Linked DNA regions of Homo sapiens: region 2 is linked to region 1. The links come from fine-mapping of genetic effects on gene expression. Tissue or cell type: whole blood. Region 1 holds a variant in brackets; the other region holds the start of a gene. All regions are shown on one strand. Distances are between the middles of the regions.

The links. PIP is the estimated chance that this variant, and not a neighbour inherited with it, causes the effect.
Region 2: it holds the start of LZTS1, and the variant in region 1 is fine-mapped to the expression of LZTS1 in whole blood (INTERVAL, PIP above 0.99).

What each region holds. Positions count from the first base shown.
Region 1 is chr8:20,252,047-20,260,151 of GRCh38, reverse strand. LZTS1 (leucine zipper tumor suppressor 1) reads left to right here. Exons shown (of 4, transcript NM_021020.5): 2 at 4,837-5,315; 3 at 6,567-7,370. The coding sequence starts at 4,971. Among named protein-coding and RNA genes, the nearest start is that of LZTS1-AS1, 20 kb to the left of the region's middle. RefSeq lists a silencer at 4,637-4,820. The variant G/C (reference allele first, on the strand shown) is at 3,144.
Region 2 is chr8:20,300,205-20,308,309 of GRCh38, reverse strand. LZTS1 (leucine zipper tumor suppressor 1) reads left to right here and starts at 4,347. Exons shown (of 4, transcript NM_021020.5): 1 at 4,347-4,570. RefSeq lists a silencer at 4,288-4,357.

The DNA of each region.
Region 1 (8,105 bases):
GGTGGGAGGATAGCTTGAGGTCAGGAGTTTAAGACCAGCATGGGCAACACAGCGAGACCCCTGTCTCTACAAAAGAATTATTTAATTAGCCAGGAGTAATGGTATGTGCCGTCATCCCATCTACTCTGGGGCTAAGGTGGGAAGATCACTTGAGCCCAGCAGCTGGAGGCTGCAGTGAGCTGTGATCACTGTTACCTACTGCAGTCCAGCTTGGATGACAGAATGAGACTCTGTTTCTAAAATTTAAAAATAAATAAAAAATAATAAGATTAGTACAGGTGAGAGCAAGCCTTACACAGGGAATAAACAGGTTGGTAGAAAGTAATCGGGGAGGGATGCAAGGGTTTCAAGATTAACTGGAGAAAGCCACCTTGCAGACATGAGACTCAAGTTGAGAACTAGAAAATGAGAAAGGCTGATGTATGTGAAGAGCCCAAGGAGGAGAATTCCAGGCAGGGGAAGCAGCAGCAAGTGCAGAGTCTCCTGGATGGGTCAAGACTTCGTATGTTCACCCACCAGGAAAGAGATGAGTGTGTCTGTCCCTGGGACATGGCGGGACAAGGTGAGGAGTCCGCATTGTACTCTAACACAGTGGGAAGACTGGAAGGGTTCCCATTAGGAAGTGCTATGACCTGGACGCTTCAGATGTGTCTGATGAACAGACTGGGGAAAGACATTGGGAGGCTCCTTCAAGGCCCAGGTGAGAGGAGATGGAGGTGAGAGGAGATGGATGAGAACCATAAACAGATTCATTTAGCACCGATGCACTGATACTGTCAATAGCCTCCAGCGGTGTCATAGGCTTGAAGGCAACACATATCGTGCACACATCTGTAGATCGCCTACTACATGCCAGGCCTTGTATTTTCCTTCTGTTTGTTTCGGCTCCCTAATGTTCCTATTTAATATTAATATTTTCAGTTTGTAAATGAAGAAACCTCAGAGAGATTGATTTTCAAATCAAACTCCTGCCGATGCCACAGCTGATGGTCTGGTCTGTACAGCCCTGCAGGTACAGCTGCTCGGCAATGTGTATTGCATGGCAAAAAAAGGAGGAGCTGAGCATATTGCGCAGAGCACGGGAGGGTCTTTTGGCCCAAAATGACACCCCTGCATGTGGACCAGAGTAGTATTTTCGCCCCATAGGAACTAGAGGTGTTAGCTAAGCTAGGGATGGATGACCTAGGGGGATGAAAACACATTTTGTCAGTGTCAAGTTTATATCAGCAGAGCCACCCTGTGCTCCTAAGTCACACCTCGCAGGAATGGGAGGCAGAAAGGTTGCATTTAGAAGGAAAGGATTAGCTCTGGAAAGTGAGTTTGGACATTGAGGCTCCCCAGATCCATAGGGATGATGGATGTTGGCAAGGACAATGGTCACAATATAAGTAACAGATACCGATAACACTGCCTAGCATTTATTGAGTGCCCACTATGTACTAAGTATTGAGTAAATGTTCCAGAGCTGTTATCTTATGGTGGTATTTCTTAAATTTCTCATAACGATCCTATGAGGTAGGCTGCTTCACTGTATTTCCTCGAGTATACAAAGCCATCAATTCAATAAAAGCTTTTCACATCAAAACATATTAAACTTACACAACGAAGTTTTGTTGTGTCATGCTTTTCCTAACAAAATATAGAACATATTCATAACATAACCTCTTTATTCTTCAGGATGATAACGCAAGTTTGAATCGAAGCCTAGATATTCAGAGTCACAGAGTCTCCATGCACAACTGCTAATTGTAAAAAATATATATATAATAAAATTAAAATTAAAAAACAGAGTCAGAAAGTTTCTGGCTCCCTTTCAGCTGTGCCCATGCAGTTCTCCATGTCCCACCTGGGATTTCTTTAGCCCCTTTAGGATGGATGGTATAATTTAGAGCTCAGCGAAGAACAGAGGCTCCTTCCACATCTCCTGTTTTATTAAACTTGTGGCTTTCCCCTTCTTAATTGGATATCTGTCTTTTGACTAAGAAATACTTCACAGTGCATGACAATCACCAACCTTTCCTAGCTTTGAAAATTGTGTGATCTAAACTTAGAGATTTGCCTGAATCTGCACATGTGCTGGCACTGACATCCCAATTTCTCCTGTCTGGTGACTGACAAGGTTGTTATTGTTTAAGCATTGATTATTAGATGCTATCCTATTACTTTAAAAAAAAAATGTGCCCAGTCCGGTGGCTCACGCCTATAATCCCGGCACTTTGGGAGGCCTAGGCAGGTGGATCACCTGAGGTCAGGAGTTCGAGACCAGCCTGGCCAACATGGGAAAACCCCATCTCTACTAAAAATACAAAGATTAGCCAGCCAGTCATGGTGGTGCTCACCTGTAATCCCAGCTATGTGGGAGACTGAGGTGGGAGAATCATTTGAACCCGCGAGGTGGAGGTTGCAGTGAGCCAAGATCATGCCACTGCACTCCAGCCTGGGCAACAGAGTGAGACTCTATCTCAAAAAAAAAAAAAAAAAAAGTTTAAGGGTGTCTTAGAATTAGTTTGTAACACTGAAGGTTAAAGATATTAAACAGTTTACCTTCCATGTCATAGCTGGCAGGTGATGTAACTAGAATGCACACCAAGTCGGCTGGGTACTTCTCAACATTAAGGCTGTAATGACTTTCTCCTTCTTTCTCTCTTGAATCTTCTCAATGAGGCCTTCCTTCCACCATTCCTCCAAAACTGCTCTTGTCAAGGTTACCAAAGATCTCCACATGGCCAAATGCATTGACTAATTCTCAATTGTTATCTTACTTTCAGCAGCACTTGACAACTTTTTTTTTTGAGACAGGAACTCAGTCTGTTGCCCAGGCTGGAGTGCAGTGGCGTGATCTCAGCTCACTGCAACCTCCGCCTCCTGGGTTCAAGCTATTCTCATGCCTCAGCTTCCTCAGTAGCTGGGACTACAGGTGCGTGCCACCATGCCCAATTTGCCTGGCTAATTTTTTATATTTTTAGTAGAGACGGGGTTCCACCATGTTAGCCAGGCTGGTTTCAAACCCTTGACCTCAAGTGATCTGCCCACCTTGGCCTCCCAAAGTGCTGGGATTACAGGCTTGAGCCATTGCGCCTGGCCATTTGACACCATTTTTAGGAAACAATTTCTTGACTTGGCTTTCTTAGGTCTTCTATATC[G/C]ACATCACCCTGAAAACCTTCTCTGCTGCTCTTTTTCACTTCTCCTAACCTGCCTGACCTCCAGATGCCGAGTGCTCCATGTTAACCATCCTCAGGCCTCTCTTGTCTTTCTGCATCCGCTCTTTGGTGACCCCATCTAGTCTCATAGCCACTTCCACACTCCCAGCTCTGACAAGTGCATCTGCAGCTCCCAGCAGCTGCCCACTCACCCTCCTGCCTACTCTCCATCACTCCCTGGATGCCAAATAGGCTTTGCAAACTGAATGTCTTCAACCAAACTCCTCTCTTTGGCATTGTCCCTGACTCCTCTCTTTCGCTCACTCCCTACATCTGATCCTTTAGCAAGTCCTGTCAGCTCAACCTCAAAATTACATTGAAAACTGTTTTTTAGAGACAGGGTCTCACTGTGTTGCCCAGGCTGGTCTTGAACTCCTGGCCTCAAGTGATCCTCCTGCCTTGGCCTCCCAAAATGCTGGGATTACAGACGTGAGCCACCACCACATCTAAATCCACAACTACCACCCTAGACTATTAGCCTGTAATTGGCCACCACTTCTATCCCCCGTCTCCTCAATAAGCTTCTTCCCCACCCGGAAGCCAGAGTGACCTTCCCCAACCTAAGGCAGATCAAGGTGTCAGCTGCTTAAAGCCATCCAGGGGCTCCTTGTCTCAACCCAAGCAAAGCCAGAGCTCTTTGAGCTGCACAGCCTCCTTGTTCTCTGATGTCTGCTGGCTCCTGGTTTCTGTTTCTCCTTCCCAGCCTTGCTAATTGTTCTCCAGCCAGGCTGCTTCCCATGTGGGTCTCACACAGCCAAGCCCCCTCTGCCTCAGGGACTCAGGCTTTTATACTTGGGGTTTCTTCTGGTACCCCTCTCCCCCTAGATTTTCATATGACTTGCACCTCATTTTCTTTTCTTCTTCTTCTTTTTTTTTTTTTTTTTTTTTTTTGAGTCAGGCCCAGGCTGGAGTGCAGTGGCACAATTGTGGCTCACTGCAGCCTTGATCCCCGGGGCTCAGACGATTCTCCCACCTCACCCTCCCAAGTAGCTGGGATTACAGGTGTGCACCACTACGCCCGGCTAATTTTTGTATTTTTAGTAGAAATGGGGTTTCTCTAAGTTGCACAGGCTGGTCTCGAACTCCTGGACTCAAGCAATCTGCCCACCTCAGCCTCCCAGAGTGCTGGGATTACAGGTGTGAACCATCATGCCTGGCTGCCCCCTCATTTTCTTGAAGCCTTTTAAAATGCTACCCTAACAAAAGAAGACCTTCCTGCATAAAACAGCCACCTCCCAGAATTCTGTTCTGTCCTCTCTGCTCCAGTTTCCCCCGCAGCACTGGTACCCGCAGCACTGGTACCCGCAGCACTGGTACCACTTGCTATAGTATACATTGGTTTGCTTCTGGCCTCTCCACACCACTGTAACCCTAAGTTCCAGGAATGCAGGGACTGTGACTGTTTTAGTCACTTGCTGGGTCCCGAGTGTTTAGAGTAGAGGCTTGCATGAAGTGGGCTCCCAGTGAATGTTTGTTGAATTATCAGACAAAGGAAGAAGGAACGGAGCACCCGGTGGTGGAGACAGTGCTGGGCTCTGACATGTGTTTCTCTACTGCCCAGATCTGGAAGTCGGAATCAGCACTGTGCTGTGACCACTCCCACCCACGCTGACTTCTGTCTTGTGTCTTCTTCCAGGTCTACGGCTCTCGCAGGCTCTGTGAGGGCTTTGCTATGACCTCAGTCCCCTCACGGAGCCACGACTGCCCCTTGCTGCCACAGCCTTTCCAAGACCCTGCCCGGCCCTGCCCCATCCTCAGCCCCGAGTCACCATGGGCAGCGTCAGTAGCCTCATCTCCGGCCACAGCTTCCACAGCAAGCACTGCCGGGCTTCGCAGTACAAGCTGCGCAAGTCCTCCCACCTCAAGAAGCTCAACCGGTATTCCGACGGGCTGCTGAGGTTTGGCTTCTCCCAGGACTCCGGTCACGGCAAGTCCAGCTCCAAAATGGGCAAGAGCGAAGACTTCTTCTACATCAAGGTCAGCCAGAAAGCCCGGGGCTCCCATCACCCAGATTACACGGCACTGTCCAGCGGGGATTTAGGGGGCCAGGCTGGGGTGGACTTTGACCCGTCCACACCCCCCAAGCTCATGCCCTTCTCCAATCAGCTAGAAATGGTAAGCGGGGGTCGCTGGCAAGGGTAAGTGGGTTGGAAACGCAGGAGAAAGCAAAATGGGGGTGGAGAGCCTGGGGGTTCAGGGGGAGTGGTGACCTGAGCATTCAGACTCCTCAAAACCAGAGCGGCAGGGGTGCCGGCGGAAGCCTGTGGCCACACCGCAGAGATCAAACGTTTCACAAAGGAATTAGAGCATCGCTCAGTCCCCCTGAAGCAGAAGTCTTGGGTCAGGCCATAAGCAAAGAGCACAGGGGATATGTGAGCTTTCTGGAGTCCCACTGAAATGTAGCTGGATTGTCAACGTAGGATCCAGGCGTTTGCCAAGCCTCGGGAAGGAGAGGGAGCCCTGTTCTCATCTGGAAGCACAGATGAAGAGGATGCAGGCCGGGAGTTAACCGCTTCTCTCCCCGGGAGACTCGTGGGGGTGGGTGCGGTCTTCTCATTTGCTGCCCTGGTGTGCATTAGCTCCTTGTTCAAGCTGCGCCTGGGGGCATCTTTGAATACAGGCTGGAGTTTTGTCATCCATTTACCAGAGATTAGGGCAAAGGAGGCCCAGGCACTGAGAAATCCAGCCCTCACACCAGCTCAAGCCCTCGTGCGTCCCACGAGTGGACACTGAAATCAATTTTCCTATTCAGTCCTCTGCCCCTTGCCCTGGGGAAATGAATCCCCGGCTTTGATTTACTAGGAAAGAGCCTCTTATGTTTGCATAGAGCATTCAGCTTTTCAAATTAAGGGGCTTGTAAACTGTGAAGCACTCTACCAGGGAAAATTACAGTTTTAAAAAAGGATCGTGATTTGGAGTGAGCCTCCCAACCCTGTAAGGAGGCCAGGTCCGTGTCCTTGCTCCAGGCTTAATGGAAGAGGCAGTGAACAGGAAGAAGGGATGGACCTAAAGAGGGACAGCAAGCTCGGCCAGCCTGATGCCCTAACTTGCCCCACACAGAGACCTAGAGCAGGAGCCTCAAGATGGTATTTATCACCTCGGGAGGGCTGGGGCAAGCTGGTGGCAGGTTGCTATTTCATAGAACAAAGTGCCCAAGTCGCCATTAGGGTTTTTCCTTCCTAAGAGAGATGACATTCAGCTGCTTCAAAGCAACAGGCAAGGTCTGCTGAGACAATTGACCAAGAGGGGTGCTGCGTGCGCTCAGAGAGCCCAGACTGGCTCAAGGTCGGCACGCGTGCCTGGGGAGGGAGGGTGCAATGCGCGCGCAGGGGAGGCATGAGTCACCGCGGTCCTTTTCCTCTACAGGGCTCCGAGAAGGGTGCAGTGAGGCCCACAGCCTTCAAGCCTGTGCTGCCACGGTCAGGAGCCATCCTGCACTCCTCCCCGGAGAGTGCCAGCCACCAGCTGCACCCCGCCCCTCCAGACAAGCCCAAGGAGCAGGAGCTGAAGCCTGGCCTGTGCTCTGGGGCGCTGTCAGACTCCGGCCGGAACTCCATGTCCAGCCTGCCCACACACAGCACCAGCAGCAGCTACCAGCTGGACCCGCTGGTCACACCCGTGGGACCCACAAGCCGTTTTGGGGGCTCCGCCCACAACATCACCCAGGGCATCGTCCTCCAGGACAGCAACATGATGAGCCTGAAGGCTCTGTCCTTCTCCGACGGAGGTAGCAAGCTGGGCCACTCGAACAAGGCAGACAAGGGCCCCTCGTGTGTCCGCTCCCCCATCTCCACGGACGAGTGCAGCATCCAGGAGCTGGAGCAGAAGCTGTTGGAGAGGGAGGGCGCCCTCCAGAAGCTGCAGCGCAGCTTTGAGGAGAAGGAGCTTGCCTCCAGCCTGGCCTACGAGGAGCGGCCGCGGCGCTGCAGGGACGAGCTGGAGGGCCCGGAGCCCAAAGGCGGCAACAAGCTCAAGCAGGCCTCGCAGAAGAGCCAGCGCGCGCAGCAGGTCCTGCACCTGCAGGTACTGCAGCTTCAGCAGGAGAAGCGGCAGCTCCGGCAGGAGCTCGAGAGCCTCATGAAGGAGCAGGACCTGCTGGAGACCAAGCTCAGGTCCTACGAGAGGGAGAAGACCAGCTTCGGCCCCGCGCTGGAGGAGACCCAGTGGGAGGTGAGGCCACACAGGGCTCATGGGTTTGGGTGGTCAGCGGTTTGGCGCCAGTACCCCCCTCTCCTTCTGGTGCCGGCCAATAGCGTGCAAACACAGACCGCGCAGGCAAGCGGGGCTAATGTGCTGGCTTTATCACCCAAAGAAGGGGCTCCCTGCAAACCATGTTGGGGGATCGACTTACATCTGAGCTTCCTCCTGTCCCCACCATCACCCTCATGGCTCCTAGATTTCAGTTTCCCAAGTGAGCCATTAAATCATGAAGCCGGAAGCCAGATGACCAAGGCCCAGCCAGGCTGTGGGCTGACCTCCCTTCCATCAGCTCCCAGGAGGCTCAGAAGAAGAACAAGCCGTGCCTGAGTTCAGGCGGGGCCAGGGGCCCAAGAGAGCACAGAATGCATTTGTTGCTTTGGAGGGAGGGACTGCACCCACTAGTAAGAGGGACCCTATTGGTGGCAGGTTTCAGTGATGGAAGTGGCCACTCCTTGCTGAAGTGTAAGTGGAACTTCTATTTGGTGAGCTGAGATGGAAACCTAGGAGAGGAAGTAAAGAGTCCCCCACTCACACACTTACACACTCACACACACTCACTCACCCGGTCACACGTGGAAATGAGGCATCTGTACCTGACCGTGCTGGAGAACCCCATAACCTCTGCATCTATTAGTGGGAAAGCAGCTTTTCTCACCAGCCTGGTGGTCTGGATGACTCATGGAGTTCAAGCCCATCGTTGAGGCT
Region 2 (8,105 bases), 48 kb before region 1:
CGAGACCATCCTGACTAACACAGTGAAACCCCGTCTCTACTAAAAATACAAAAAATTAGCCGGGCGTGGTGGTGGGCGCCTGTAGTCCCAGCTACTCGGGAGGCTGAGGCAGGAGAATGGCATGAACCCGGGAGGCGGAGCTTGCAGTGAGCCGAGATGGCACCACTGCACTCCAGTCTGGGCGACAGAGCGAGACTCCGTCTCAAAAAAAATAAAAAATAAATAAATAAATTTAAAGAAAAAAGAGATGGTCCTTCCAATTCAGAGACAAGTCTCCTGAAGCCCAGAGATAAGAGATTCAAGGTGGTCAGAGACCTACAGGTAAGGAATGAAAATTCTTGTTATAAAAGTTGCACATTCAAAGCAACTCCACGGGAACTGTTTTCTACCCTGGAAAAAGACAGGGATGGTAAGACATCTTCTAAGGTCATGGGACCATTGGCTCTGACTGCAGAAAAACTGCTCTCCCTGGACCTTTACTGGGGTCACTGGGAAATCAGGAGTGGCCTCAGTTGATTCCTTAAAGCTTTGCTCAGTTGTCTAGGCTCATATTTTTTCACCGGCTTTTGGAGATTATCCAACCTCACTTAAATATAGTCAGCATTTCTTTTCTCTTAACACAAGGCCCTGGATTTTGAGACTTGAAATAATATTAAAAAATTATTTGATATTTTGTATTTTTCATAACACCTTTGACTTTATTAATTCTTTTCATTTTGTATTGTTGCCAAAAGATAGATAGGGAAAATGTTATTAGGCTTCTTTCACTGATAGCAAACTAAACCTCCAAAGGGTTGTGAGAAGACTGCAGATTGGAAGAAGTAGGAATACACGTGGATTTTCTGAATTTGAGTCAATTTATCTCTCTGAAACATCATCTCGCCTCCCTCCCCTCATAGCACTCATTCTAGTATTTTTTGAGCGCTTGCTTTGTACCAATAATGTGCTGAGTTCTGTGGATTCAATGTTGACTAAGACAGACATGATCTTTGAACAAGAAACTTGCAGAAGAGATGAACAGACAAACAAGAAGCCAGGGAATTAATTAAATTGTGATAGGTGACAGTACCTTGAGGAAGGCAGAGTTGTCTGTAATCCAAACAAGCTGCTGGCTTAACTGGTCTATGGGTCTGGTCCAGTGTGGCCAATCTTAGGTCCTAGAGATGAAGCATGATGCTCTGTATCTCAGGTGATGAATACAGGAGGAGGGTAGGAGATTTTTACAAGAAATGTTTTGTGACCCAGCTTTCTAGACTCGACTCAGGCAAGGGAGAGCCTGAGGGATGCAGAGTTTCACATAAGACACCTCTCGGGAACCCAGACACTAAGGAAGGGCAGCGCCCCTTCACTAGACAAGGAAGAAAAGGAGCCACACTGAGAACCTACCGGTGGTGTTGGGGGTAGACACACCCAGCCATTGCATTACCATACCCAACTGCTGAATCAGGGAGCTAATTATGGCTTTGTGCTGCTGGAGACCACATTCCTGAGGCTTTCATGCACACATACGGAACCATAATACATACACACATGCTGTGCTGTCCATCACTGGTCTCCTTCTCCACTCTGCCTTCTCATTTCCAGCCCCACTCTCTATGCATTCTGTCTCTAAAGTATCCCTTCCACAGGGTGTTTCTGTTGTTCCATAGGGTATCCCATTTCCACCGCTCATACACAAACCAACACACTGCTCATACCCTTTGCCTGACTCAGTCATTCCAGGAAGGCTGCACATCATACCCAGCTTTCACCTAGAATGTCACTGACAAAGGTGTCAGTGCTGAAGGAGGGTCCTTAAGGAGTATCTTCTCATCCAAACCATCCACTTTCCAGATGAGGAAACTGAGGCCTCATCAGGGACTCCAAACCATCCACTTTCCAGATAGGAAACTGAGGTCTCATCAGGGACTCCAAACCATCCACTTTCCAGATGAGGAAACTGAGGCCTCATTAGGGACATGGCTTGTCCAAGAGCATATAGTCAGCAGTAGGGCCAGAACAAAAAGTGGGCTTCCAGAGTCCTTTGTCTCTTCCATGGAATCTCACCTCCGACGATGTGAAAATGAGTTTGAAGTCTGGAGCCCACCTCATACCTTAATCTACCTTCCAGGAGTCTGCTCTTTCCTTAAAGCGCTGGAATGTTTGATCGATATTAACTCATTCAGCTAAAATTCTTGAGATACTCTCACCAGCAAGCAAGAATACATGTTCTCTGTCAATAAATGCAACACAAAGAAGCATGGCGCTTTAGAAAAAGAAGACATTATTTTGCCCTGGACGATAAGAGAAGGTGTGAGTAAGGGTTCCATATTTTGTCTCAGATTTTGAGAGGTAGAGTTAGAAGAGCAGGAGAAAAGCTTTTCAGACTGAGGGGCAGGTTTATACAAAGGTGGGGAAAAGGAGGTGATGTTCAGGAAAAGGCTGAGTAGCCTTTGGGGTTGACACTTAGAAATTGTCGTATTGCTTGTAATTACTGCCACGTGTATGTACTTACCGCAAGGCAGTGGGTTTCATTTAATCATCAGAACAAACCTATACATGAGAAATTCATTCATTTAACAAATACATATTGAGTGCCTACTATGTTGCCTGGCAAGTTCTAGGTGTCGGGGATACATCTATGAATAAAACAGACCAAGTCCCTCAGCCACCAATAAAAGAGAACAAGTTCCTGCCTTCAGGGAATTTACACTGGGACTTGTTACCTCATTTCACAAATAAAAAAAGAAAGAAAGAAAAAGAAAAACTGAGAAAGAGGGAGGGGAAGGTAATGGCTCAAATAACAAGCAGCGAAGCCTGTCTGTGTTCTTAAACCCTCGCGGTGCCATCTTTCAGGAAGCCTAGATTCGAAGGTCAGAGTCTTCAGGGTCAACAACCGAAGGCAGTGAGATTCCCCTACAGGGTTTTGAGCAGGGGTGTGGCAGAAACCATATGGCTTGTTTTCCTTTGAGCTGTCCCCCCTGCCACCACAATTCTATTTAATTTTTTTGTATTTATTTATTTATTTATTTATTTTGAGACACGGTGTCACTCTGTCACCCAGGCTGGAGTGCAGTGGCACTATCTTGGCTCACTGCAACCTCTGCCTTCCAGGCTCAAGCAATTCCCAAGCCTCAGCCTCCCAAGTAGCTGGGATTACAGGCTCCTGCCACCACACCCAGCTAATTTTTGTATTTTTTTTTTTTTTTTTTTTTAGTAGAGACGGGGTTTCACCATGTTGGCCAGGCTGGTCTTCAACTCCTGACCTCAAGTGATCCACCAACCTCGGCCTCCCAAAGTGCTGAGATTACAGGCATGAGCCACCGCGTCCGGCCCCCATGCTATTTATAATCAGATCGGCTATGTCAATCCTAATCCATTACATCTATCCCCCACCCCCCAACACACACACACACACACACACACACACACACACACACACACAGGCTTCTTTCAAGATGAGGCTAACACTCCTTGGGCAGAGCTGCCATCTTCCCGCCAAGCCTGGTTTTAGAGGATTAGCCTCAGTGCACCCTCAAGCCCCCAAGCCTCATGCTGCACCTAGCACTCCGGTTAACTGACCCTTTGTCCTACAAAACCTTGTAAGCTTGAATCCTCTCCTGGCTCAGTTGCTAGAAGTTAAAAGTGAGGGTGGTTGAGAAAATGATAGTATTATAAGGGGACTGGGTGAGACTAATAGCTATAAACTTGAAACAGGCCTCTGCTGTCACCTGAAACTCAGCTCCCTCAGAGCTGGAAAAGTTTGCTTTTGACATGTTTTGGGAGTGGGAGTCCCGGTGCTCTGGACTCTAGCCTGTAATCCTGGTGTGGTTCGCAATGCCCCTCACTTGGGTGCTAGTCCAGTCCTTGAACAAAACACACGCCCTTTAGTGCGAGTCGGGAGCGGGAGAGACGGTATTAAGAAAAATAAACTGGCGATTAAGAGGAAGGGGTAATGAAGAAAGGGGAACATACACAGAACGGGAGAAGGAATGGATTTTAAACAAAACTGGAGTAAGAATTTCAGGTAATGAAAGGGAAAAAAGGATGCGACAAGAGCAAGACAGGAACAATCGGAGAAAGGGGGCCAGGCAAGAAAGGAAGACTGAGGGGGCAGGGTCGCCCAATGGGGCTGATGGAAGTGAGAGCAGAGAGACGGGACCCGGGACCCCGCGCAGGCCGCGGGCGCGAAGGAGCCGCGAGGTCGCGAGCAGCCCCAGCTGTCAGCCCGGAACAAAGGCCGCCGAGCGGCACAGACCAGGCTGCCGGCAGCTCGCTGCCAATCAGCGGCGCCGGCTCTGGCCCCGCCCCGGGCCGGCCCCGCCCCGCCCCGCCCCGCCCCGCCCCGCCCCGGCTCCGGGACCCGCGCAGAGGCCGGCGCGCCTGGAGCTGGCGGGTTGGCAGCGGCCGGGCGGGGAGGCCGAAAGTTTCTCTGCCCGCCTCGGCCAGTGAGTGGGAGCCGGGAGCTGCATCCCGCGCAGTGGGACCGGCCCGGCCCGCTCAGCAGCTCTGGAAAAAGAGAGACGGGAACACACCGGGAAACACTGGGAAAAAAAAAAAGTCTCAAGTGCGCCCGAGGCGCAGGGGGCAGGTAAGGTGCGGTGGCCGGGGATCTCCTCGCCCCTGGAGGGTCTGCTGCCCTGGCTGCGGGAAACCGCTTTCCCCTCGCCGGGCCGGACCGTCCGTGCGTCCGCGCGTCCGTCGGTCTTTGTCTGTCTGTGTCCGTGGCTGTCGAGGTGTCTTTGTCTCCGCGTGGAGCTGTCAGGGTCTCCCCTCTGCAGGGTGGGCGCCGCTTCTCCGGCCCGGCCCAGAGGAGGTGACTGTGCGTCTGTCCTCCTGTCTTTGTCTTCGTGTCTCCTGCAGACGGGGTTCGTCTATTCCCAGCACCGATGCTGATCCTGGCGGGGACGTCAGTGTTAGGTGACACTGGTGTCGGAGGTGAAGAAGTGGGAGGTGGGGACGCGAGGCCGCAGGAGCAGGGGCCGCAGGAAGAGGGTCCGGCGGTCGGTCCGGGCCGCTGAACTTCGCCGCCTGGAACTTTGCAGATGAGCTGTGTCCACACCGGTGGGGAGGACACCGGTGCGTTGCAGCCAGAGATTTGAAAGGTTTCCCTCAAGGAATAAGTCACACGGGCGGAGGTGGTTAGAGAGGAAGGTGGTAAATCGAAGTGTCTAAGTGGCTCCCTGGGGCTGCAGCTTCCTGGGGTCGGTCCTGGATGTGCAATTCAGGAATTTAGTCAAAGCACCATGCACACACAGACAGCCCCACACTACCTTCACTTCTTCCACCGCCACCCTAGGCAGCCAGACCTCACCCCTCCACCCTGCCACAGGCTTTGCTCTGGCTGGAGGGGCTTCAGAGGTCGCAGCTTGGCAGCAACAGGCATCCCCGAGACACCAAGGGCCAGGTGATGTCTCTTTTTCGTGCTCCAAGTGGAAAGGTTTGAACTGTGGAGCAAATGAGCCTTGTGCTCGCCCACGAGTATGTCAGGCCTGGGAAAGTGCTCCAGACTTGTTAGCTTCGCAGTCTTCAATTTCCCAGGAATAAGAAGTGCTTAGGGATCTGGCCTCCTAAAGTGTTTCCTGTCTCACTTATTCCCTCCACACCGTCCCGCTGCCATCAGCCCCTCTACTCTCTGGTCCCGGGCGCTGGGAAAGTACTGAGGAGGCACTGAGTTCTGGACCATGCCGGGCAGGCGCTGCTCCTAATAAGGATCCCACACTCTGCTGGAAGTGCAGCCTAATAGGAATGCTGGGAGCCCAGGAGCCCAGCCACAAAGAGATGAGCTATCTGCTTGGCAGTTCCTGCACCAAGACCCTGAGAAGAGTCTGCGGGTACCGGCAAGAGGGTGTTTGCAACCTGAGCTTTCTCTAAGTTCAAAAACAATTTTCTGCAGGCATCCAGAGGGAGAATGGAGGTGCCCGAAGAGTGTGCGCATATGGGTATTAGAGATAGCATGTACAGACGGGAAAGGTGTTTGTGTTTAAGAGTGGAGTGGAACATAGTCTGTGGGTAGAAGTCTGTGGGCAGAGAGCATGCAGGCTAATCAGGCGTGGCGTTACACCTTGTATTTATCCAGCGCTTTTCTTTGGAGGCTCTTTCTGCTCATCATAGACGTTATCTCATACGTTATCTCCTTTATCCTCACAACATAACTACCAGGTTGGTGCGGTGGGCTCTCTGTGCCTGCCAGTGAAGAAACGGAGGCGTCAGAAGGGAAAGGCTTTCCCTAAGGTCCCACAGCTAATAGGATGGAGCAACTGGGAGTCCTAGTAAGAGGTCTCAGCTGGGTGGATGTGAGTGTGGGGCGCTCACTCTGCTTAAGAAGAGAAGAAAACTAGTAGAAAAAGAACGGGCATCTCTGTGGGTGTCTATATGCAAGCAAAAGGGAGGGCGGGACATTTGATGTGCTGAAGATGGTTGTTAGTTAACATTTATAGCAGCGGCTGTGTGCTTCACGAGGTAAACCTGTCTCAGCAGTTCAGCTTGTGCATTTGTGTATCTGCAGGAGGTGCCCCCAGCTGTGTGTGCCTGGGTCGATGTGGGGCAGGGGTGCTGTCATAGAAGGAGTGCTGCTGCGTGGGGTGCCCTGGGGAAAGCCAATGCTTTGGGAGTGTGTGAGGGAAAGATGTGCCTTTCAGTTTTGAGAAGCCGTGGGTCAGCGTGTATAGCAAAGCTATACATGGGCTCCAGACGTATATAAATGGCTTTCTAATCCTGAAAACTTATTTATATGCCTTTGCGCTTATTCAACGTTCATTTCATAAATATTCATTGGGCGCCTACCAAATGCAAGGCTCTGAGCTGTGCAGCGAGGCTAGGAAGATGAATAATGTAATGATGACAGACCTATGGGTAAGCACCTTATAGACCAGTGTAATGGATAATACCGTAACACTTAATGCCAGCCACTAAATCCACTGTGTGCCTGGAACTTTTTATTCATTATCTCATTTAATTTTCACTGCAGCCCTGCGGGGTATGTATAATTATTAGATGAGGAGAGTTAAGTAATTTAGCCAGGCTACAAAACCGAGGGGCAGGGATTTGAGATCAGCTTAGTAAGGTTCTGGACCCTGGCTCTGTCCATGTTATTCTGCTACCTTTGAACATAGAAACACTGTTTCTTCTGCATGGAATATTCCTGCCTGGTCTCTCTACCTTCTCCACTTAACTGGCTCCCACTTTTTTTTTTTTTTTTTTTTTTTTTGAGACGGAGTCTTGCTCTGTCGCCCAGGCTGGAGTGCAGTGGTGCGATCTTGGCTCACCGCAACCTCCACCTCCTGGGTTCAAGCAGTTCTCCTGCCTCACCCTCACAAGTAGCTGGGACTATAGGCGCCTGCCACCACGCCTGGCTAATCTTTTATATTTTTAGTAGAGATGGGGTTTTGTCATGCTGGTCAGGCTGGTCTTGAACTCCTGACCTCAAGTGATCTGCTGGCCTCAGCCTCCCAAAGTGTTGGGATTACAGGCAGGAGCCACCACACCCAGCCCCACTGTGGGTTTTAACCATAGGGATCAACTCCTCCAAGAAAGTTTCCTCTGTTTTTTCCTCAATTCTGAGTCAGGTACCTTCCTCAGAGTCCCTACCATCATACCAGTATATTATGGCATTTACTCACTGGCTCCTGAGGAGTCTACAAAACTCCTAGAAGCAGAGATTGCATCATGAGTTCCCAGCTCAAAATACAGTGTTGGCGGCGGGGCGCTGTGGCTCACGCTTGTAATCTCAGCACTTTGGGAGGCTGAGGCAGGTGGATCACGAGGTCAGGAGATCGAGACCATCCTGGCTAACACGGTGAAACACCGTCTCTACTAAAAATACAAAAAATTAGCCGGGCGTCGTGGCGGGCACCTGTAGTCCCAGCTACTTGGGAGGCTGAGGCAGGAGAATGGCGTGAACCCGGGAGGGGGAGCTTGCAGTGAGCCGAGATCACATCACTGCACTCCAGTCTGGGCAACAGAGAGAGACTCCGTCTCAAAAAAGAAAAAAAAAATACAGTGTTGGCTTTCAGTAGATACTATGAGTATGCCCTTAGTAAATGCTTGTTTAATAAGGTAAGGGGAAAGATGAGAGCTCTCAGAGACCTTTGGCAGGGAGCACTGTTCCCAACAGTGGATTTCTG